Homo sapiens: one gene and its partner. The protein of the gene in region 1 binds, or shares a complex with, the protein of each later gene. Each region holds a gene or a part of one and is shown on either strand. Other genes may lie near its edges. The genes, in order: DNAJB13 and LRRC23.

Evidence for each region.
Region 2: DNAJB13 (region 1) and LRRC23 share a complex: the UniProt entries of both Homo sapiens proteins name them as parts of the axonemal radial spoke complex.

Annotation. Positions count from the first base shown.
Region 1 is NC_000011.10:73,942,418-73,954,168, forward strand, and holds the start of DNAJB13 (dnaJ homolog subfamily B member 13), read left to right. Parts: upstream 1-8,608; 5' UTR 8,609-8,652; coding exon 8,653-8,720; intron 8,721-8,757; exon of another isoform or gene 8,758-8,820; intron 8,821-9,990; exon of another isoform or gene 9,991-10,259; intron 10,260-11,751. UniProt on the Homo sapiens protein: Functions as part of axonemal radial spoke complexes that play an important part in the motility of sperm and cilia.
Region 2 is NC_000012.12:6,907,607-6,919,081, reverse strand, and holds the end of LRRC23 (leucine-rich repeat-containing protein 23), read right to left. Parts: intron 9,193-11,475; coding exon 9,056-9,192; intron 6,353-9,055; coding exon 6,079-6,352; 3' UTR 6,055-6,078; intron 5,192-6,054; coding exon of another isoform or gene 5,011-5,191; 3' UTR 4,853-5,010; downstream 1-4,852. Other genes in the region: ENO2 (gamma-enolase), read right to left, coding at 920-1,142, 1,368-1,501, 1,975-2,044, 2,353-2,411, 2,570-2,665, 3,165-3,249. UniProt on the Homo sapiens protein: Essential for sperm motility and male fertility. Plays an important role in the proper assembly of the third radial spoke (RS3) head and the bridge structure between RS2 and RS3 in the sperm flagella.

The DNA of each region.
Region 1 (11,751 bases):
TTTGTTGTACTGCTTGTTGTAAAGAATGAAATAAAAGATTGAGTTGATCATCAGTTACATTTTCAATTAAGGCACATTCAATATTTTGCACAGCTTGCATCACATAGGCCGAATCAGAAATAATGTTTACTGGCTGTTTAAAGGTTTTTAGTACTGTAATTACAGCCATAAGTTCAGCCCTTTGAGCAGAAGCAAAGTCAGTTTGAACAACTTGTTGTTGAGGTCCTACAAATGAGGCCTTTCCATTACTAGATCCATCAGTAAAAACAGTATTGGCCCCTTCAATAGGGGTCTTTTGAGTAGTGGAGGGTAATATCCATGATGTCAATTTTAGAAATTGGAATATTTTGGATTTAGGATAATGATTATCAAGTATACCAATAAAACCAGCTAAATTAACTTGCCATTTCTGGGAGTTAACATAAGCTTGCTGAATTTGTTGTTTATTTAAAGGAACTATAATTTGATTTGGATCATATCCCATTAATTTTGTTGTATACAGCCTTGCTTGACCTATCAGTACAGCAATTTGATCTAAGTACAGAGTAAGTGTTCTAGTTGTATTGTGAGGTAGAAAAAGCCACTCAGCTAGATCATCCTGTTGAACAGTAACACCTGTAGTTGAATGTTTAGTAGGAAAAATGAAAAACTGTAATGGCTGTAGTAGATCAATTCAAGTCACTTGTGCCTGATGAATTTTTTCTTCAATTAATTGAAGTTCTTACAATGCTTCTTTGGATAGAGAGCATTTGCTGTTAAGATCAGAATCACCTCATAAGTTAGAAAAGAGGTGAGACATAGCATAAGTAGGAATGCCTAAAGTGGGAATAATTTTTGAAAATCATTTAGAGGTTTTTTTTTTTTTTTTTTTTTTTTTTGAGACAGAGTCTCGCTCTGTCACCCAGGCTGGAGTGCGGTGGTGCAATCTCGGCTCACTGCAAGCTCCGCCTCCTGGGTTCATGCCATTCTCCTGCCTCAGCCTCCCTAGTAGCTGGGACTACAGGTGCCTGCCACCACGCCTGGCTAATTTTTTGTATTTTTAGTAGAGACAGGGTTTCACCGTGTTAGCCAGGATGGTCTCCATCTCCTGACCTTGTGATCCACCCACCTCAGCCTCCCAAAGTGCTGGGATTACAGGCGTGAGCCACCACGCCCGGCCTCATTTAGAGTTTTTAAATTATCTCTTTGAATTTGAACCTTTTGAGGCTTAATAGTACTTTGTTTTACTTTCCTTCCTAAATATTGAAATAGAGTGGAAGTTTGGATTTTATCGGGGGCTGTGATTAATCCTGCAGCAGTTACAGCCTTTTCTGTTTGTAGCATAGTATTCATTCCTCCCTAGTTTCAGCTGCACATAAGATATTATCCATGTAACGGATGATATAACATTTTTTAAACTGTTTTCTAACTGGCATAAAAACTTTAACAACATAAGTTGGACAAATAGTTGGGCTATTTAACATGCCTTGTGGAAATACGTTCCAATAGTATCTATCTGCTGATTCTTTGTTATTTATGACGGGAACAGTAAAAGCAAATTTTTCATAATCTTGGGTCGCTAAAGGAATGGTAAAAAAGCAACCTTTTAAATCTATCACTATGAGAGGCCAGTATTTAGGAATCGTAGTTGGGGAGGGCAGCCCTGGTTGCAGCGCGCCCATGAGTTGAATTACAGCATTAACGGCCCTCAAGTCTGTTAACATTTTCCATTTCCCTGATTTTTTCTTAATGACAAACATAGGAGAATTCCAAGAAGAGAAAGTAGGCTCTATGTGTCCCTTTTGCAATTGTTCTTGCACCAATTCTTTTAAAGCCTCCAGTTTTTCCCGTTTCAGTGGCCATTGCTCCACCCAAACCAGTTTGGCAGTTAGCCAAACAAGAGGAATGGGTGCCAGAGGCTCGACAATGGCCGCTCCTAAAAATGATACCCCGATCCAGTTTGCTCTGTTTAACCTTTTAGTTCTAAAGGTTCTGGTTGTCCATTTTCATTTTTTGCTAGTCCTTTCCCCGGGAGATATCCCATTTTTTTCATCATTTGTTTATTGTTATTACTATATTGATCCATAGGAATAGATATTTCAGCACCCCGTTGTTGGAATAAGTCCCTTCCTGACCATCTGGCCCTTGACATGGCAGAATTAAGGAACTTTGAAACACTTCTGAGGCAGCTCCTACTCCAACAATACTAAGGATGCCTTTTGTTTGGGCCAATGCTGGCACCATTGATCTAAAGCAATAATAGAAACATCATCTCCAGTATCTACTAGTCCCTCAAAGTCTTTACCTCGAATCGTTACTGTACAAATAGGTCTTTTGTCAGACACTTGATTAACCCAATAGACAGCCTTTCCTGCTGGATTTGTACTACCAAAGCCTCCCATTCCTTTTACTATGCTGCTTCCCAGTTTTGTATAAGGTAGAAGTAACAACTGAGCAATTCTTTCTCCTGGGGAAGCAGACCATGGAGTTGAGGAACTGATAACTAGTTGAATTTCTCCGGTATAATCAGAATCAATTATTCCTGTATGTACAGTGGCACCTCTTAAATTTAAACTAGCCCTTCCAAGCAATAGACCAGCTGATCCTGAGGGTAAAGGGCCCCTAACTCCCGTGGGGACCTTCTTTGGTGGCTCCCCAGGAAGTAGGGAGACAGGACTTGTGCTGCAGAGGTCTACGGCAGCACCGCCTGCTGTGGCGGGGGACAATTGTACGTTTGTAAGGGCACTGGCTGTGCCAGATACGCCTCGGTTTGTTGAGGGGCCCAAAAGAGAGTTTGTCCATCTTTGCTAAATTTAGAATGACACTGATTTGCCCAGTGATTTCCCTTTTTACATCGGGGGCAGATACCGGAACTTTTTTTGCTGCTTACTGGTAGTAACCTTTGCCTGTTGATTTCCTTTTTTACATTCCTTTTTTGTGTGTCCAAATTGCCCACAATTAAAACAAGAACCCGAGAAACGAGGCATATTTTTTCCGGCTTTTAATCCAGCCATAGCCTGAGCTAAAAGAGTAGCCTCATGTAAGTTACCCCCAATGCCATCACAAGCCTTAATATACTCAGCCAAATGAGGCTTCCCTCTCCTAGGTCGAATAGCAGTTTGACATTCTGCATTGGCATTATCGTATGCAAGAAGCTTTATTACAACATCTTGAGGTTGTTTTGTCAGTTATGGCTTTATACACAGCCTCCTGGAGCCGAGCAATAAAATCAGTATATGGTTCCTTGTCAGACAGAACTGAAAGATGGATATTTTTCCTCTATAACATTTATTCTTTCCCATGCCCTTAAGCATACAGAGCATAACTGAGCAATGGCAACATCCTCCATTAATGCTTGATTGTCTAATCGACCCCTGTTAGGGCTGACCCCCATTAACTGTTCAGAGGACACAGGCACAGGCGGCTGTGCCTGTGTGTTTTCTCTTGCCTGAGTTTGAGCTTCATTAGCCCACCAAGTTTTAAATTGCAAGTACTGAGACAGAGTGAGAACAGATTTTGTTAAAGTATCCCAATCATATGGTACTAACCTATTATCAAGAGCCACATTTTTTAGTAAAGTTCACACAAAAGGAGAATTTGGCCCATATTGACTAATGGCTTGCTTGAATTCTTTTAATAACTTAAAAGGAAAAGTGGCCCAATTAGCTGTATTCTGTCCTCCTTGTTGGGTTATAGTAACTGGAAATTGCCATGCTTCAAGGTGTCCTTCAGCTCTAGCCTTCTGAATAGAATTTTGTATAGCACCACCAGTTGCTTCAGATTTTAATGTTGTCACTACAGGAGCAGTAATTTTTACAGCTGCTTCACTTTCTCACCCATTGTGGGAGAGGGAGGAGGTGGCCATTCACTTAATTCAGCAGGCGGAGCTGATGGACCAGTAAAATATGTCTTTTTCAGCTTTCCTTTCTTTTCTATGATTTCCTCCGGCTCCTGTGCCTCGCGTTCAGAATCTGATGTTAGTTTCTTACACTCATCCTCCTCTTCTTCATCTGAATCTGCCTCATCATCTGTTTGAAATGGCTCAGGAGCTGCCTTTATTAACGCCCACACTGACCAAACAGAAACTGGAATTTTGGCTCCATCTTTATATGCCTTTTTAAAATCTCTGCCAGTTCTTTCCCATTCATCCAACTCCATAGTCCCTTGTTCCGGAAGCCATGGGCAGAACTGCTCTACTGTGCTGAAAAGTGTTAATAGACTTTGAGTACTAACTTTCACTCCCCCTCTCCGTAATAAATGCCTTAAGAAATTTAAATAAGCAGAATATTTGCTTTCATTCTGTCCCATTGTTACCCTGGTTCTTCCAAGCGTCCAGCTTACCTGCCGAGCTTCTTTCAGTCATCCTCTGGTGTCCTCTGACAATTGTCCTCTGCTTCCGCATGCTCTAGCGTTCCTTCACAGGGGTTTTCGTTGCCCCACATTGGGTGCCAGAAATGTTGGAGTGATCAGACCCAACACCAGGCTGTGGGGGCTACAAAGTCTGGCAGAGTCGAAGGAATGAGACAAGACAAGAATGCATAAAGTGGGTCCAGGGGGCCAACACCAGTATGGCAGCTGCGAAGGCCCTGAGCTCTGGGAGCCCACGCTCTTTATTGGTGATCAAACAGAAGCAGGTGGTGAGGACGTGAGGACATGGGGTTAGAAAGGAAGCGGTGCATCAAGCGTTTGACCTATAGCTGTGGCAGTTTAGCATTTTCTTTTAAGCATATGGAGTATGCTCTGCTACTCGAGATAATGGAGAACGTGTTTTTCTATCTCAAGATAACAATCAATTTACAAACCTGGGACAGCAAGAAGCAAGGAGCCAGCAAGTCTGGACACATTCCAGAGGCCACAAGGGGTTTTATTCCCTGAGCCCTGGATTGCATCCAAGCCACGAGGGGTTTTATGCCCTGGGCTTAGATTGTGGTGTGGCAGGGCAGCCTTCCACCCTTTGGCACAGAGCTTGGTGTTCCAAAGGCCACGAGGGGTTTTAGACCCTGGACCCAGGACATGTTCCAAGACTCTCTTACGTTATGTCAGACAAGCAAGACTTGCCTCAGCTCTTCTAGCAACACATTGCCCCAGTGATAGACCAATGGACAGTAGTTCCAGACACCAACCCATGCATATGTGGAAATTTCATATCTAACACAGCAGTCAGTACAGATCGGTGGGAAGACAATGGACAATTAAATAAATGATCTGAGCAGTTGGATATCTTTCAGAAAAGATACTATCTTGCTCCATATACAAAAAAATAAACTCTAGGTGTGTTAAATATTTAAATGTGAAATGGACTTTCGGAAGATCATATAGGTGAAGATCTTTATGCCCTCACATAAGGAAATATTTCTTAAACTAGACACACACAAAACGTGTAACCAGAAAGGAAAAGATTGATACATTTGACTTTTAAAAAGGTGAAAAAAGCTTCAAGTTGAAGAAAGGATTCGTATTTCATATTATCAACAAAGAGTTTGTTTTCAAAAAACATAAAAAGCCACTAGTCAGTTTTTTTTTTTTTTTTTTTTTTTGAGACGGAGTTTCGTTCTTGTTGCCCAGGCTGGAGTGAAGTGGCACAATCTCTGCTCACCGCAACCTCTGCCTCCCAGGTTCAAGCTATTCTTCTGCCTCAGCCTCCCAAGTAGCTGGGATTACAGGCATGCGCCACCATGTCCAGCTAATTTTGTATTTTTAGTAGAGATGGGGTTTCTCCATGTTGGTCAGGCTGGTCTTGTACTCCTGACCTCAGGTGATCCATCCACCTCGGCCTCCCCAAGTGCTGGGATTACAGGCATGAGCCACTATGCCCGGCCTGTCAGTTTGTAAAAAGGATAGTCAAATAGAAAAAAATGGGCAAAAACATAAATAGGTGTTTCACAATGAGGAAAAACAAATGGCCAATAAGTATGAAAAGATACTCAACCAAGAAATGCAAATTAAAATCCACAATGAGATGCCACTTTATGCCTACTATATTGGCAAACGTTTTAAAACTTGACATCAAGAGTTGGTGAGGGCCAGGAGTGTTGGCTCATGTCCATAATCCCAGCACTTTGGGAAGCTGAGATGGAAGGATCACTTGAGCCCATGAGTTCAAGACCTGTTTGCACAATATGGCAAGACCTCGTCTCTACAAAAAATTTAAAAATTAGCCTGATGTGGTGGTGTGTGCCTGGGTTTCCAGCTACTTGCGAGGCTGAGGCAGGAGGATTGCTTAAGCCCAGGAAGTCGAGGCTGCAGGAGGTTGAGCCATGATCGCACCACTGCACTCCAGCCTGGGCAATAGAGGGAGACCCTGTCTTAAAAAAAAAAAAGAGTTGGTAAGGATATGAAGCAAAAGAAACTGATACACTGCTGTTGCCAGCGTAAATTAGAAAACCACACCAGAAAACTTTGGCATTGCCTTGCAAAGTGGGCGCATATACCCAAATGTTCATCAACAGAGAGTACTATACAGCCTGTGACAATAAGTCACACACACAAATACCTACCATTTGTATAAATGATACCATTTATATAAAGTTCAAAAATATGAAAAGGTAAATATGTTGCTGTGGATATTTGCAGTGTGGCACTGGAGCTGGCTTGTACTGGCTTGGGAAGAACTGGCAAATGCCACAAAACAGCACACCACTGGGTACAGGCATATGGAGTAAAGCTCTAAAGAAAAGCAAGAGAATTACAAACAGGTAGGGAGGGGCACATCGGGGCAATATTCCTTCAACAAGGAATGTTCTAATGCTGCTCTTTTTCTTCCTAAGAAGAAAAAACAAATAGAAGTTAGCTGGGTTGAGGCGAGGGTCTGTGGTGGGTGGGGTGGGAGGTTCTGAGCAGAGGTAGCAGCAGAGGTGAATGAGGAGAGGGGATGGCTGGTTTGGGCAGTGGCAGGCACTGCAGTCCATTCTGACAAGCAGTGGGTGCGTGTAGGGCAGTGGTGAGAGCTCAGGTGGAAAGGGAGGCACCAGATCACAGAGGGCCTGTGTGCCATGGTAAGCAGTTTGGAGTTCACTCGAAGTAATGAGGAGTGTGGGCTTTGCAGAACAGAGACAAGGCAGGCAGGCCCGCGAGGAAGTTGTTGTGGTCTTGCTGAAAGATGAATCCAGAGCTGGGCCCTGATTATGAGGAGGAAGAGCAGAGGAGCTGGGCTTGAGAGGTTGTCTAGGAAGCAGAATGGACTGAGCTTGGTGACCAGTTGGATTTGGGATGTGCATGGAAAACAGGGCTCTGCTGTACTCAGAGAGGTGGAGCATAACTCCCTCACTGTAAGGGTGGGCCGCACAGTGACTGCCTTCCAAAGAGTGCAATACAGCAAGTGGGGAAGGAGGGCTGGCGCGGTGGCTCACGCCTGTAATCCCAACACTTTGGGAGGCTGAGGTGGGTGGATCACTTGAGGTCAGGAGTTTGAGACCAGCCTGGCCAACATGGTGAAACCCCGTCTCTAGTAAAAATAACAAAAATTAGCCGGGCATGGTGGCACATGCCTGTAATCTCAGCTACTTGGGAGGCTGAGGCAGGAGAATCGCTGGAACCCGGGAGGCAGAGGTTGCAGTGAGCTGAAATTGTGCCACTGCACTCCAGCCTGGGCGATGGAGTGAGACTCCATCTCAAAAAACAAAAACAAACAAACAAAAAGAAAAACACCAAACAAATTCCAATTGCAGGACATTCTACAAAACACCTGACCATTATTACTTAAACTGTCAAGGTCATCAAAAACATGGAAAGTCTGAGAAACTGTCACAGTCAGGAGGCACCAGAGGAGATGCAACAGCTAAGTGTAACGTGGCATCCTGGATGGGGTCCGGAACAGAAATAAGATATTAGGTTAAAACAACTAGTAAATCTGAATAAAATGTGGATTTTAGTTAATAATAATGTATCAATATTGGTCATTATTTGTGACAAATGTACCATACTAATGTAAGATGTTAATAATAGGGGAATGTGAATGCAGTGGCTCACACCTGTAATCCCAGCACTTTGGGAGGCCAAGCCGAGCCCAAGAGTTCAAGACCAGTCTGGGCAACATGGTGAAACCCCATCTCTACAAAACATACAAAAATTAGCCAGGCATGGTAGTGCACGCCTGTGTCTCAGCTACTTGGAAGGCTGAGGTGGAAGAATCCCTTGAGCCTGGGAGGTTGAGACTGCAGTGAGGTGTGATCCTGCCACTGCCCACCAGCCTGGGTGACAGAGTGAAGACCCTGTCTCAAAAACATGATAATGATAATAATAATAATAAAATAGGAGAATGTGGATGTGAGGTATATGGGAACTCTCTGTACTGTCTTCTCAACTTTTCTAAACTCTAAAACTGTTCTAAAATAAATGTATTTTTAAAAAATTAGCCAAATGCATTTCTTCTAAAACCTTTTTATTAAAACTAATTACTGCTCTCTTTAAAAACAAAAACAAAATAAAACAGAGCCCTGTGAGTCTTCAATTTCCGAGTTGAGTGACCTTTCACAGGGTCGCAGAATCAGCCCCAGCTCTCCCCCAGTCCTTTCACTGACTCCTCTCTGTGGCAGAGCTGAAATTTGTTTAGGGAAGTGGGACTACAACTCCCAGAGTGCACCTGTGCGGTTGTCAGGAGCAACCAAGGAAGCCAACTAACAGCCTTGCTAGAGTCTGAGGACTATCCAGGGCCTGACTGCCAGCTAGCCAGCCATGGGCCAGGATTATTACTCTGTGCTCGGGATCACTCGCAATTCAGAGGATGCCCAGATCAAGCAGGCGTAAGTTGGGGTGGGAGCCAGGCCTTAGGGGTGTGCTGGGGCAGGCCCTGCCCTCTTCTCTTCCAAAACGAGCTTTCCTGCACAGCTTAGCGCAGACAAGGTAAACCTTGTTCCTCCTTTCACTTCTTGCATACCTGTATCCTGGCTTTGGTCTGGGTCAGGGCCCAGGTTGGAAATTTGAACTCTTTAGTTCCTCAATCTGCTCCCAACCCATCTCCCTTTATGCTCCATGCCCTATATCCTCTCCTGGGTGCCTTGCTTTTCCCAGCAATGAAGTGGGGACAAAGGAGCCATTTGAACTTTATCTTGAATATTATGGAGAACCAGAGGCTTGTGAACAAGGGAGTGGCCAGGCCAGATGGATGTTTTAAATTCAATTCTGGCCATGATGGAGGTTTTCAGCATTGACTAAACTACATTCCTGAATACTTCCATCGGATCTTAAGGACGTTCTGGCTCGTTCCTAAGAAAGCCTACAACAGGAGTCAGTACATTTTTCTGAAAACATGTTTTTGTTTTTTGTTTTGAGACGGAGTCTTGGTCTTGTTGCCCAGGCTGGAGTGCAATGGCGTGATCTCGGCTCACCGCAACCTCCACCTCCTGGGTTCAAGCGATTCTTCTGCCTCAGCTTCCCAAGTAGCTGGGATTACAGGCATGCACCACCATGCCCAGCTAATTTTGTATTTTTAGTAGAGATGGGGTTTCTCCTTTTTGGTCAGGCTGGTCTCAAATTCCCGACCTCTGGTGATCCACCCGCCTCAGCCTTCCCAAGTGCTGGGATTATAGGTGTGAGTCACCGCACCTGGCCAAAAACATGTTTTTTTTTTTAACAAATATTTATTGAGCGTCTACCACAAGGGTTGAGAGGGTACTTCACTCCTGCTGCAGTGGTAGCAGCTGGAGATAAATGTCGGAATCCGACATCGACACTCCCTTACCTCATGCAGCTAGATTTTGTTGCTGAATAGATGTTGAATAAGTCACCACAACTGTGATGAGTGTTACAGAAGAGGAAGTATGGGGGGCTGTGGAAGTTATCTTGGAAGGAGAGAGACCCTTTAGGAGGCTGTTCGTGGTAATCAAGGCAAAAGATGAGGCCAGAGAAAGGGGAGGGAATGGACTTGGTAATTAAGTGGATCACTGGAGGGTGAAGAAAAGAGGAGTCCAGGATAACTCAATCAATTAAGTTAGGCAGTGACAATAGGTGTATGTTTTGAGTGTGTAGGTGCTGTTCTGAGAACTTTCCATCACTGTTTAACCCTCACAACAGCCCTGAGAATTAAGTGCCATTATTATCCCACAAGTGCACTAGTAAATGGTGGAGCCAGTGTTCAGATATCAGGCCTCCCAGAGTTGCCAGTCATGGGCCTATTCCTGGGCCAGGTCCTGTAGGGGATCAGTGGCATAAGTGGAGAGTCTGCGGTGTTGGAGAAAAAAGACACAAACTCATGAAAGGATCTGAGAACAATTCAGGACAGTGTATGATGTCACCCACTCTTCGGAGCATCTCATTGACCAGAAGGACCCATCCAGGGAAAGGTAATCAGGAGGAAGGGCAGTGGGCGTGCAGAAAGATAAGCACAGCTTAAGCACTGGAAAGGGCTGGATCAGAATCCAGATTCACTTACCTGCTAGCTGCGTGACCTGGGCAAATTACTTAACCTCTTTGAGCCGAAGTTTTCCCATGTCTAAAAATCATCATCATAATAAAGGTTGCTGTGAGATTGAAATAGGATTAGATGAGATAATGCATGTGTCCAGCAATCATTTGCATGTGAAACCATGTCATATAAAGAGTGATTAAGGCCTGGCATGGTGTTTCATGCCTGTAATCTGAGCACTTTAGGAGGCCAAAGCAGGAGGATCCCTTGGGCCCAGGAGTTTGAGAGGGCAGCCTGGGCATCATAGGGAGACCCTGTCTCTACAGAAAATTTAAAAATTAGCTGGGCATGATGGCACACACCTGTAGTCCCAGCTACTTGGGAGGCTGAGGTGGGAGGATTGCTTGAGCCCAGAAGGTAGAGGCTGCATTGAGCTATGATTGCACCACTGCACTCCAGTCTGGGCAACAGAGCAACACCTGTCTCAAAAAAATAAAAATGGCTGGGCCGGGCACCGTGGCTCATGCCTGTAATCCCAGCACTTTGGGAGGCCGAGGTAGGCGGATCACGAGGTCAGGAGATCGAGACTGTAGCAGGACGAGCCGCAGAAAAAACCTCTCAGACACCGAGTTGTAGAAGGAAGAGCTTTATTCAGCTGGGAGCATCGGCCAGCTACTGCCTTAAAATCCGAGCTCCCCGAGTGTACAATTTCTGTCCCTTTTAAGGGCTCACAACACTAAAGATTTCACATGAAAGGGTCGTGATTGATTTGAGCAAACAAGGGGTACGTGACGGGTTTCATGCACTGGTAGTCAGAGAGAAACAGAACAGGGCAGGGAGTTTCACAATGTTCTTCTATACAATGTCTGGAATCTATGAATAACATCGGTTTCTAAATTATGAGTTGATTTTTAACTACTGGGTTTAGGCCAGGCAGGCCCAGGCCTGGTTTCAGGCCTGGCGCTGGGCTGCCTGTCTTTGGTTTTACTTCCTTGTTGCTTTTTTTTAAAACAGGTACTGAGTATAAAACAATATGAGATGGTCGCTCTCTTCCCTCAAGACCATCCTGGCTAACACACTGAAACCCCGTCTCTACTAAAAAATACAAAAAATTAGCCGGGCACCTGTAGTCCCAGCTACTCGGGAGGCTGAGGCAGGAGAATGGCGTGAACCCGGGAGGTGGAGCTTACAGTGAGCGAGATTGCGCCACTGCACTCCAGCCTGGGCGACAGAGCGAGACTCTGTCTCAAAAATAATAATAAAATAATAATAATAATAATAATAATAATAATAATAATAATAATGGCTGGACACAGTGGCTCACACCTGTAATCCTAGCACTTTGGGAGGCTGAGGCAGGTGGACCACTTGAGGTCAGGAGTTTGAGACCAGCCTGGCCAACTTGGTGAAACCACTTCTCTATTAAAAAT
Region 2 (11,475 bases), on another chromosome or scaffold:
ACAGATTTCGAATGGATGGGATGAATCCAACAGTCATCCAGACCATCTCCCAGTATTCCCAAGGGCTCCAGTGACAACTTTTTTTTTTTTTTTTTTTTTTGAGACGGAGTCTCGCTCTGTTGCCCAGGCTGGAGTGCAGTGGCATGATCTCGGCTCACCACAACCTCCGCCTCCCGGGTACAAGCGATCCTCCTGCCTCAGCCCCGCTAGTATCTGTGATTACAGGCACACGCCACCATGCCCGGCTAATTTTTGTATTTTTAGTAGAGACGGGGTTTCACCTTGTTGGCCAGGCTGGTCTCAAACTCCTGACCTCAGGTGATCCACCCGCCTCAGCCTCCCAAAGTGCTGGGATTACAGGTGTGAGCCACCGCGCCCGGCCTTCCAGTGGCAACTTAACAGATGCTAACACATCTGGCTAGGCAGGTAAAAGACTGTCCCCTGGCCAGGCGTGGTGGCTCACGCTTGTAATCCCAGCACTTTGGGAGGCCGAGGCGGGCCGATCACAAGGTCAGGAGTTCGAGACCACAGTGAAACCCTGTCTCTACTAAAAAATACAAAAAATTAGCCGGGCGTGGTGGCGGGCGCCTGTAGTCCCAGCTACTCGGGAGGCTGAGGCAGGAGAATGGCGTGAACCCGGGAGGCGGAGCTTGCAGTGAGCTGAGATCGAGCCACTGCACTCCAGCCTGGGTGACAGAGCAAGACTCCGTCTCAAAAAAAAAAAAAAATACTGTCCCCCTAGGTCTGCATGTGAATTTGGCAGGCTCTCTGCAATCCACTCTAAGAACTGGTACCTTTTGGAGTTTGCAGAGTCCTAGGACCCTCCACGCCTACTCAGGACTTGGTGAACTGTGTCACCCTTTCTGATGTCCCACAATAGGGTAAGACTTAGAGCTGGGAGTGGGGCTCCTGGCCTCACCTTCACTGTTCTCCAGGATATTGGGGGCAAAGCCACCTTCATCCCCCACATTGGTGGCATCCTTGCCGTATTTGTCCTTGATGACTCCCTTGAGTGTATGGTAGACCTCTGCACCTAGTCGCATGGCATCCCGAAAGCTCTCAGCTCCCACTGGGAGGATCATGAACTCCTGCATGGCCAGCTTGTTGCCAGCATGAGAGCCACCATTGATCACGTTGAAGGCCTGGGGAGCCACAGAAAGACAGAAGGGTCAAAGAGCCCCTCCCTGCCCGCCCCAGGAGTGTTAACCCAAGATCCCAAACTTCCCCCAGCTTTCCGGACTAAGTCTCACGTCCCCATCCTTCCTCTTTACCTCCCTCAATTCACTTTCCTCCCATCATTCCTCATGAGTTGCATGCTCCCTCCCCCACCCGCCCCTGGGAGAGCCGCAGGCTGGCTTATTGCTCACCGGCACAGGCAGGATGAGGTCTGAGTTCCCGGCCAGCTGAGCAATGTGGCGATACAGGGGCAGTTCCCGCTCAGCTGCCCCTGCCTTACACACGGCCAGAGACACACCCAGGATGGCATTGGCCCCAAACTTGGCTAGGAGATTATAGAGGAAGGTGCTGAGCACAATGTCCCCTTCTCCTTTCTAGCTCCTGCCTCCATCTGTAGTCTCCAAAAGGAGCCAGTAAAGGAGACCCCCTCCTCCCTCCCCACCCCTGCCCCAGCAACACCTCATCCATGCTCTCTTGAAAACAGCAGGGAGAGGAATGGGTGGGGAGGAGGAGATTGGAAACGGCAGAGAGCCACACCTCTTTCTAAATATCCCTGAGACCACAGACTCTCTCAGGCCATCCCCCTCCTCTGTATGCTGCAAAGAAGGTCTTCCTTCTGCCTACTGTCGGTCCTTCCCTCTGCAGCTAAACTCATCTCCCCTTGCTCTGGCTTTGAGAGGAGAATGCCCCTGACAGTCATTCCTGAGGAAGCCACTACAGCACTGGCCCTTCAGCTCTCTATCTGCTCCACGCCTCCCCACCCTGACGCTTCCCCACTTTCTCCCGGCCCCGGCTCACATTTGTTCTCAGTCCCATCCAACTCCAGCATCAGGTTGTCCAGTTTCTCTTGCTCCACCACAGAGAGACCCTGAGGGCAGAGCCTCCATCACCCAGGGCCAGGCTGGAGGCTGAGCCCTAAGGCAGAGGGTCCCCTCATTCACACCCAAGCTCACATTTGGCCAGGGTCCAACCAGGTCCCTGTGACAGGGGCCTACCTGGATTAGGGGACCTGAACTCCCATGGGAGCAGGGTGCATTAAGGAAGCTGTTCCCCACCCTTCCCCCTTGTAACCATGATTCCTAAGAGTGGGCCTTCTTTCTTCCCTTCCTCCTGCCCTGCTCCGGGATTCCTTCCAGAACTCTGGCCCTGCTATCCCCAGCAAAGAGCAGGCCTCACTGAGCTGATGAGGGCTGGCGCGATGGTGGAGTTGATGTGGTCCACTGCCTTCAGGACACCTGGGGAAAGGAAGAGGCTGGACTGGGTCGGGCCAGGAGGGGCCGGAAGGGATCAATGGGAGGAGGGGAAGCCATGCTAGAGGAGGACTGGGGACTGGTGTGAGGTAGGGGCATAAGGCTGAGGTGGGGGAGAGTCTGGAAAAGAGAAGGGACCTCACCTTTGCCTAAGTAACGCTGTTTGTCTCCATCCCTCAGCTCCAGGGCCTCATAGATGCCCGTAGAGGCTCCACTGGGCACTGCAGCCCGGAAAAGACCTAAAGGAGGAACATGGAATGAGAGGGAGTGAAGAGGACACAGGGGCCAGGGAGTCCTTCAGCCTTCTGGCTCTAAACTGCCTGCCTACCACATCTAGCTCTCTCCCCACACTGCTCCCTAACATCCCCCCACCCCCACCCCACACACACACTGAGGCAGATGCACAAGAAGTGGCCTCCTCATCCACCCATCTGAGGCCCCACATGCACAAGTGGGAGCCCGCAGAAAGAAAATTGCTTGCAGCACACGTCTGCACACATGCAAGTGCACAGGCAGACACACGGAGGCAGGACATGCCTCACACGCTAAACTCGAACACAGACCCACCTACCCTGGCTCCCCGGACAAGGAGGATCCAACCGCCACAACCCAGGCTTGTGAGCCTGGCCCAGCACCCCATACCCCTGGGTATCAAAAAAGGCCTCCGAACCCCTGGCCGAACCCAGCCTGGCCGTGGAAAAGCTAGGGCTGTAGGAAGGCCCATGCCACACCCATTACCTTTGGCAGTATAGAGATCCACCTCCACTGTGGGGTTCCCGCGGGAGTCCAGGATCTCCCGGGCCCAGATCTTCTCTATGGACATGATGGCTGGGATCTCCTCGGGTGGAAGGGAAGGAAGGAGAAAGATAAGAGGCTTAGAGGGGTGGAGCCTGAGATCAATGGGCGGGGCGGGAGGCTGGGAGGGATGGGAAAGAGGTTACTGCAGTGGGTGGGGGGTGGGTAGGGAGGCGCTGGCTGCAGTCTAGGGCTGTAGAAGGGATTCCCCCTCCCCCCTGGGAAGAGGAGAAGGTCAATGCAGTGAGGAAGGGGAGGTCACTGCAGTGGGGGGCGGGGTAAGATCAAATGATGAGATGGGAGAACACTGCAGTGAGGAGGGGAGGGGCACGACAGTGGTTCCCGCGCCTCTTTGCAGCTTGGCCAGCCGGTGGGGTTCCCCCAGATCTCCTCAGAGCGGAATGGCTGCCAGGCTTGCATTTCTCCTGGGAGCCAAGAAGAGGATGGGCTGCCTGGGCCTCTCTTCCAGAGCCCCCATACCTCCCCAACTTAACACCCCAGCTGCCTGAACACTGCCCCTTCCCCAAGGTCCCACTCTCTCCCAAACGTGTATCCCTCCTCTTCCCGCGAAAGGCGCATGCAATACAGGTGTCGGGGAAGAGGGTCCTGAGAAAGGCCCTGCAGTCCCTGGGGGTTGCAGCGGGAAGTGAAGAGGATAAGAGCCGGTGGGGAGTGGAGGCGAGCTGGGCCTGTCCTCCCCTCTGCGCCTCGACAGATCCCCACTTCTTCCATCTCTCCCCCGTGCAGCAGAGGGGAGGAAGCGCGAACGGAGAGGGGCGCCGTGGGGAAGAGCAGGAGAGAGGGGAGTCCAAGGGAAGTCTGGGGGAGGTGAGGAACGGTGAGAGAAGACATTTCCCCAAATGCAAACCAAAAGGGACGCTCTAGGATAAAAATGCACCGCCCGGAGAGGCTCCCAACTTAGAAACAAATAGAACCGTAGATGAGGGCGAGCACCGGGAGAGAGGCAGGCAAGGGTGGAGAGGCGCAGTTAGAGATAGGCGCGCAGAGGGCCAGAAAGCGAAGGCAGCGGGCGGGGAAGGCCAGGGAGGGAAGGCGCCCTGGGCGCGGGCGGCGGAGCAGGTGCGCAGCTGCACCGGGCCAGAGATGCGGAGAGGTGCGCAGCGGCACCGGGTAAAGGAGGCAGGGGCGCCGCGGCGAAGGGAGGGGGCCACAGGGGCTCTGGGCCTGGCGGGGGCTTCACCTCGGGACTGCAGACTCAGACGGTGGTAGTGGCGGTGGCGGTGGCGGTGGCGACGGCGGCGCTGAGAGAGCGGGAGTGGCAGTGGCGGCGGCGGCTGCGGCTCCCGGGCGGCGGGCGGAGGAGGCGCCTATAGGGCCGCGCGGGCGCATGTGACCCGGAGCCCCCGATGAGTCAGGAGCTGCCGGCGGAGGCGCACGTACGAGCGCGGGTGGGGGACCGACGAGGGTGGAGTGGGGAAGGGAGGAGGATGGGGGAAGGGTGGGGGCACCCACGACCTGGCCCCAGCGCACACAAGCGCTCATACCCACGGCCCGACCCACTCGACAGTAACAGGCAGAGCCGCACCCCTGTAGCCCGGGTACGAAGGCCCACACTGCCAGTGAAGCCCAAGACAGCCTCAATGTCTCACAAACCCGGTCAGACACAGGAGCATCACTCTGTTTCTTTATTGGAAATCCGAACACCCCAGCCGCCTTCGCAAGTCTCTCCAACCACTCCTACCAGCACCCCGCGGCCCACGCGGTCTTGGCTCTCACCCACGCCTGCCCGAGGGCGGCCCCCGGCCTAGGCTCCAGGCAACGCTCAGGCCTAGGCACCCCATTCTGCACCCCACACTGCCCAGAGGACCGGCACAGAGCAGATCCTGGGCCTCAGGTTGTGATGAATTTCCAGCTTTGGGGCAAAAACAGGCATCCTCTGTTCTCTGTCATACATGTGGTGGCTGCCCCTGGGAGTCTGATCAGGTCTGAAGGCCAGCGTCTTTGATCTCCTGGAGGTAGAAGACAGAAGTAAATAGGGACCAGGCGCTGTGGCTCACCCCTGTAATCCCAGCACTTTGGAAGGCGGAGGCGGGCAGATCACGAGGTCAGGAGATCCAGACCATCCTGGCTAACGTGGTGAAACCCCGTTTCTACTAAAAATACAAAAATTAGCCAGGCGCGGTTGCATGCGCCTGTAGTCCCAGCTACTCGGGAGGCTGAGGCAGGAGAATTGCTTGAACCCAGGAGGTGGAAGTTGCAGTGAGCTGAGATTGTGCCACTGCACTCCAGCCTGGAGACTAAGCAAGACTACCTCGCAAAAAAAAAAAAAAAAAAAAAAAAAAAACAAACAGAGGTAAATAAAGCCTCTCCCCTATCTAAAGTGCCTGGCGGCCACCCTCATCTCTTCAGTCTCTTTTTGCCTCACTCTGCCCTCTTTTCTTCCCCCATCTCTGTGTCCTGTTTTTAGCTTCAGATTTTTTGTGCTGGATCTTCCTCTCCTGCTTCTCTCCTAGGTCCAGCTGCATACACCACCAACTTTCCCCTGCAGCCCCTACCATGCACCCACACCTGTCCTTTCCTAGCCGACTTCACTCTGTGTCAGGTATGGCTGCCCCACCCCCCACCAACTCCTCTGCCTGCCACCCCAATTCTTTTCACTTACTCTTCTGGCCTCCTAAGTCTTTCTCAGCTGGTCCCAGGCCCCTTGGGTCCCTTTTCCTCTCCCTGACTCCTAACCCTCCTCTCTTTAAGGGTCCTGCTTGTCTGATGCTTTCCTCTCCCACCTCCTTCTGCAGCAGCTTCCCCTCTTGCCTCTTCCCCTACCTGCCCAGCCCTTGGCCTCCTCCCACTGCCTCCCTGCAGGCTTCCTTACTATCTTTAGAGGCTAGAACTGCTGCTAGATCAATGACTGTTCGGGTTCCAGGTCACGCTGGGGCTCAGGCTCCTGCTCCTTTTCTTCCTTCAGCCTCTGTCGAATCACATCAGCCTCAGCCCGTTCCTCCTCCTCATAGAATTCCTTGTCCAGGCGTTCAAGGTATGGCATCTGCACCAGGGCCTCCTGGCGGTAGCTGGTTTCGTCCGTGCATGGGTTATCAAGCAGCACCAACGCTCGCAGCTTGGGCAGGTCTCGAAGCTTGGCCAGCTCCCCCAGGTTGGCCACCATGTTGCCCCTGCCAGTGTGGTCAGGAGGGGTTCATGCAGGAATAATGGGCTTTGGTTGCCAGTTGCTAGGAATGGGGCCTCTGGGGGACTCTCGGGGTTCCAGTGTCCCTAGAAACACTGTGAGGACTGGCCTGCCAAGCCTTGCCAGATTTACTGCAGAGGTGCTGTGTGACCCCGCTCTGGTCCTGCTTCTGCCCTTCAAGGAATCCCTAAGTGCCATATTCTACTCTGTAATACATTCATGTGTTCTTTTGGTGCAGCAAAGCTAGGCCACAACCCTGTCTTGTAGCTGGGGAGGAGAGGGCAAATTTTCCTCACAGGGAGAGACATTTTCTGTGATCACACCTAAATGGAGGGTAGAAGGTAGGACCCAGCCTGGGCAACATAGCGAGACCCCATCTGTACAAAAGCTAAAAATAAAAAAATTAGCTGGGCGTGATGGCATACACCTGTAGTCCTTGCTACTTAGCTGAGGAGGAGGGATTGCTTGACCCCAGGAGTTTGAGATTACAGTGAGCCGAGATCGAGCCACTGCACTCCACCCTGTAGGACCTAGGTCAGTGGACAAGGAACTGGGATCTAAGCTGGAGTTTAGGGTGGTGGATGCTCGGTTCGTGCTCTCCACAAAGAGAACCTAAGGCTATGGATGGGTTGGAGCCTCCCAACCTGAAGAATAAACTTCATCTCCTAATGTGCCTCATTATATGATACTCTGTTTTTATTTTATTTTTATTGAGACAGGGTCTCACTATGTCACCCCGGTTGGGGGTGCAGTGGCATGATCATAGCTCACTGCAGCCTTGAATTCCTGGGCTCAAGTGATCCTCTCACCTTAGCTTCCTAAGTACCTCCAGGCATGTGCCACCACACCTGGCTAATGTTTAAATTTTTTGTAGAGACTGGGTCTCACTATGTTGCCCAGGTTTGTCTTGAACGCCTGGCCTCAAGCAGTCCTCTTGCCTTGGCCCCCCCAAAGTGCTGGGATTACAGGCGTGAGCCACCATGCCTGGAATTTTATTTATTTTCATGTTCTGGCTTTAAGCTTTTATGAAATCTATTTAAGTGTTTCAGCCTGATCTCATGGTCGTGCTGAGCCTCATGCAGTGTTTCTCACCAGGAGGGCTACAGGAACTTTGTACTGGACTCTGCCATACATTGTTGGATGCTTAGCATCTCTGGCCCCAGAGGCACCTGCCAATCATTGAGACACCCTCACCCCCCTCCACACACACACCCGACTTACTCTCAAAACATCCCCATTTAATAGCCACTCAGGAAGGGTCCATCATGCCTGTCTAGATCATTAACAGGAAGATGGCACAGATACACACCCCACCAGATCCGTGTGGCAGAGTTCATGAATAAGAGAATGCCCAGGGGGTCAGGATGAGAGTTGGGGCTTCCAGATGCAACCACCTCTCCCTACTTGGAGATGCTCTTTCCATTACCAGCTCAAGAATCTGGTCTTGTTGACTAAGGAAAGAGGCAGTTTCCTTACATGTTTGCTGAAATAAACACACATAAAGTCCTCCATCCGACAAGAGTTGCTGATCTTCAGTGCCTTTCTACCAAAAGATTTTCTTACAAATGTCCTTCTCTCCTCAAATCTGAGCACATCTTGTGTTTTTTTAATCAGTAAAAAGGTCATCCCTTACAGGTGGGGCTCAGGAGAAGAGAGGCAGGAAATGGGAAGGTGAATTGGGACCGAGGAAATGGAGAAGGGCAGTGGAAACTTATATAGGATAGGGTGAGGAAAAAAGAGTTGGAGCCAGACTGTGAGCCCCTTAGGAACAGGAATCACCTCTGATTCCTTTCTTTCTTTTAGAGACAGCTCACTCTGTCACCCAGGCTGGAGTGCAGTGGCACAATCATGGCTCACTGCAACCTTGAACTCCTGGGCTCAAGTGATCCTCCAACCTCAGCCTCCTGAGTAGCTGAAACCACAGGTGTGCACCACCAGGCTCAGTTAATTTTTATTTTTAATTTAATATTTTAATTTTTATTTAATATTTTATTTTTGTTTTGTTTTTGAGGCAGGGTCTGGCTCTGTCACCCAGGCTGGAGTGCAGCGGCTTTATCTCAGCTCACTGCAAACTCCACCTCGAGGCTCCAGCGATCCTCCCGCCTAAGTCTCCTGAGTAGCTGGGATTACAGGTGCCTGTCACCATGCCTGGCTAATTTTTGTATTTTTGGTAGAGATGGGATTTTGCCATGTTGCCCAGACTGGTCTTGAACTCCTAGGCTCCAACGATCTGCCCACTTCGGCTTCCCAAAGTGCTAGAACTACAGGTGTGAGCCACCATGCCGGGCCATTATTTTCACTTCTGTAGAAACATGGTCTCACTAGGTTGCCCAGGCTGGTCCTGAACTCCTGGCCTCAAGTGATCCTTCCTCCTAAAGTGCTGGGAGTACAGGCATGAACCACCATGCCCAGCCTCTGATTGCTTTAAATGTCCCCAAAACACAGCACAAGGCCTGGCACATAGCACATTCTCAATAATTGTGGATTGAATGAATAAAAATTCAGGGGTCACAAGCTATAAGGGATTTAGTGTTGCAACTCAGTGCAGAAGAAAGGAAGGAAAGCCGGGCTTTCCTTGAGAATCCAGCTGTGGGCTAGGACTGGGGGATTGGGCCAGGGAAGAACACAGACTCAAAAGCTGCACCTGGTCAGGGGTAGGGGCAAGGTGGGGCTTGGAGAGGGTGCATACCTCAGGTTGAGGTACTGCAATGATTTCATTTCTCTGGAGAAGCCACTCAGGGTGTCAATCTGGTTGTCTCGAAGATGCAAGGTGGTGAGATTGCTCAGATCCTCCAAGCCTTCCACCTTCTTCAGCATGTTTTGGGCCTAGACCCCCAGGGCACAGTGGATTGATTGAGAGGGAGCAGGGATAGGGAAGAAAGAGAAGTCAGAATGAGATAAAGCAAAAGAGGAAATCCAAGAGGTAGAGAGGGAGGAGTGGAAGAAAGGAGTGGGGGTGAGTAGAGATCAGTATAGAAAGTAAAGAAGTTCAGGAGAAGCTGCCATCCCAGAGAAAGGTCAGCAGTAACCCTCTACCATTCGCCCCATCAAAGCCACTTGGGATGGAGGAGATGCTTCAACCCACCCCTACCCGGCCCAGGAGCCCCCAGGCCACCACTGAGGATTGGCATCAGCACCATCCCAGAATAACGAAGCTTAAGAGTCTAAAAGACTAAATATTTCAGTGGCTTCCTGTGGAGTTATTATATATATAATATATAATATATTATATAATATATAAAATATATATTATATATTATATATTATATACTATTATATATAATATTTATATATTATATATAATATACTATTATATATAATATTTATATATTATATAAAATATATTATATATAATATACTATTATATATATTTATATATTATATATATTATATATAATATATACTATTATATATATTTATGTATTATATATAATTATATATAATATATTATATATAATTATATATAATATATAATTATATATTATATCTAATTATATATATTATATATAATTATATATTATATATAATATATAATTATATATTATATATTTTATATATAATATATAATATATAATATATAATTATATATTATATATTATATGTAATTATATATTATATATAATATATAATTATATAATATATAATATATATTTATATATAATATATAATTATATAATATATAATATATATATCGGTTTTCATCCACAGTCCCTAGCTTATAACCCCCATAATAGCCCTTCTTGCAGTCTTTTGTTATAAAGTTGGGTGTGCTGGGCCTCAGGGGCAGGTCTCAGGAACTTCTCCAGCCGTCTTTTCACCTGCTCCAAGAGAAAGCGCTAATCTTTCCCCCCACTCCCTCTTTCTGACTGTGATTCTTTCTTTTTTTTTTTTTGAAACAGAGTCTAGCTCTGTTGCCCAGGCTGGAGTGCAGTGGCGCAATCTCGGCTCACTGCAAGCCCCGCCTCCTGGGTTCACGCCATTCTCCTGCCTCAGCCTCCCGAGTAGCTGGGACTACAGGTGCCTGCCACCACACGCAGCTAATTTTTTTTTTTTGTATTTTTAGTAGAGACGGGGTTTCACCGTGTTTTTCTTTGGTTTTTTTTTTTTTTTTTTTTTTTTGAGATGGAGTCTTGCTCTGTCTCCCAGGCTGGATTGCAGTGGCGTGATCTCAGCTCACTGCAAACTCTGCCTTCTGGGTTCAAGCCATTCTGCTGCCTCAGCCTCCCTAGTAGCTGGGATTACAGGCGCATGTCAGCACACTGGGCTAATTTTTGTATTTTTAGTAGAGACAGAGTTTCGCCATGTTGGCCAGGCTGGTTTCGAACTCCGGACCTCAGGTGATCCGCCCGCCTCAGCCTCCCAAAGTGCTGGGATTACAGACATGAGCCACCGCGCCCGGCCTGATTGTGGTTCTTAAGACCCTCCCCAGCGACAGCCTCCCCAGTTTCCTGGGGGAAGGAATACTAAGATCATGAAGCTTCCATGAAAAGCCAAGAGGACTGGGTCCAGAGAGCTTCTGGGTAGCTGAACACGTGAAAGCTTTTGGAGGGTGATGCATCTGGGAAGGGCATGGAGCACTGCACCCATATCCCCATACTTCGCCCTAAGCATCTCTTCATCTGTATCCTTTGCCCTTGCAATAAACTAATAAAAACCACTCTAGAAAATTAATTAAATCCAGAGAAGAGGTCATGGGAACCAGCTTCATGTTGAAGCTGGTGTGTCAGAAGTTCTGGAGGCTTGGACTTGCAACTGGTGTATGTGGGCGGTGTAGGGGTCACTCTTGGGAACCGAGCCCTCAATCTGTGGGATTTGATGCCATCCCCAGGTAGACAGTGAATCGAATTAGAGATCACCCAGCTGGTGTCTACTACTTGGTGTATGGGGAGAAACCCCCACACCTTTGGTCCCGGAAGTCGTATGTTGATGATTGTTGTGGTGGTAGTGTAAGAGCTGAAGAAAAACCCAGTCTGAGAGGAGGGTTTTCCTAAAACATTTCCACAGACTGATGTTTGTACCTCAATTATGGTCCATTTTGCTACTACCTGTATCAAGGTAAATTATCTCTGTATTATCCACACATTATATATTATCAGCCCTGCTAGGTGG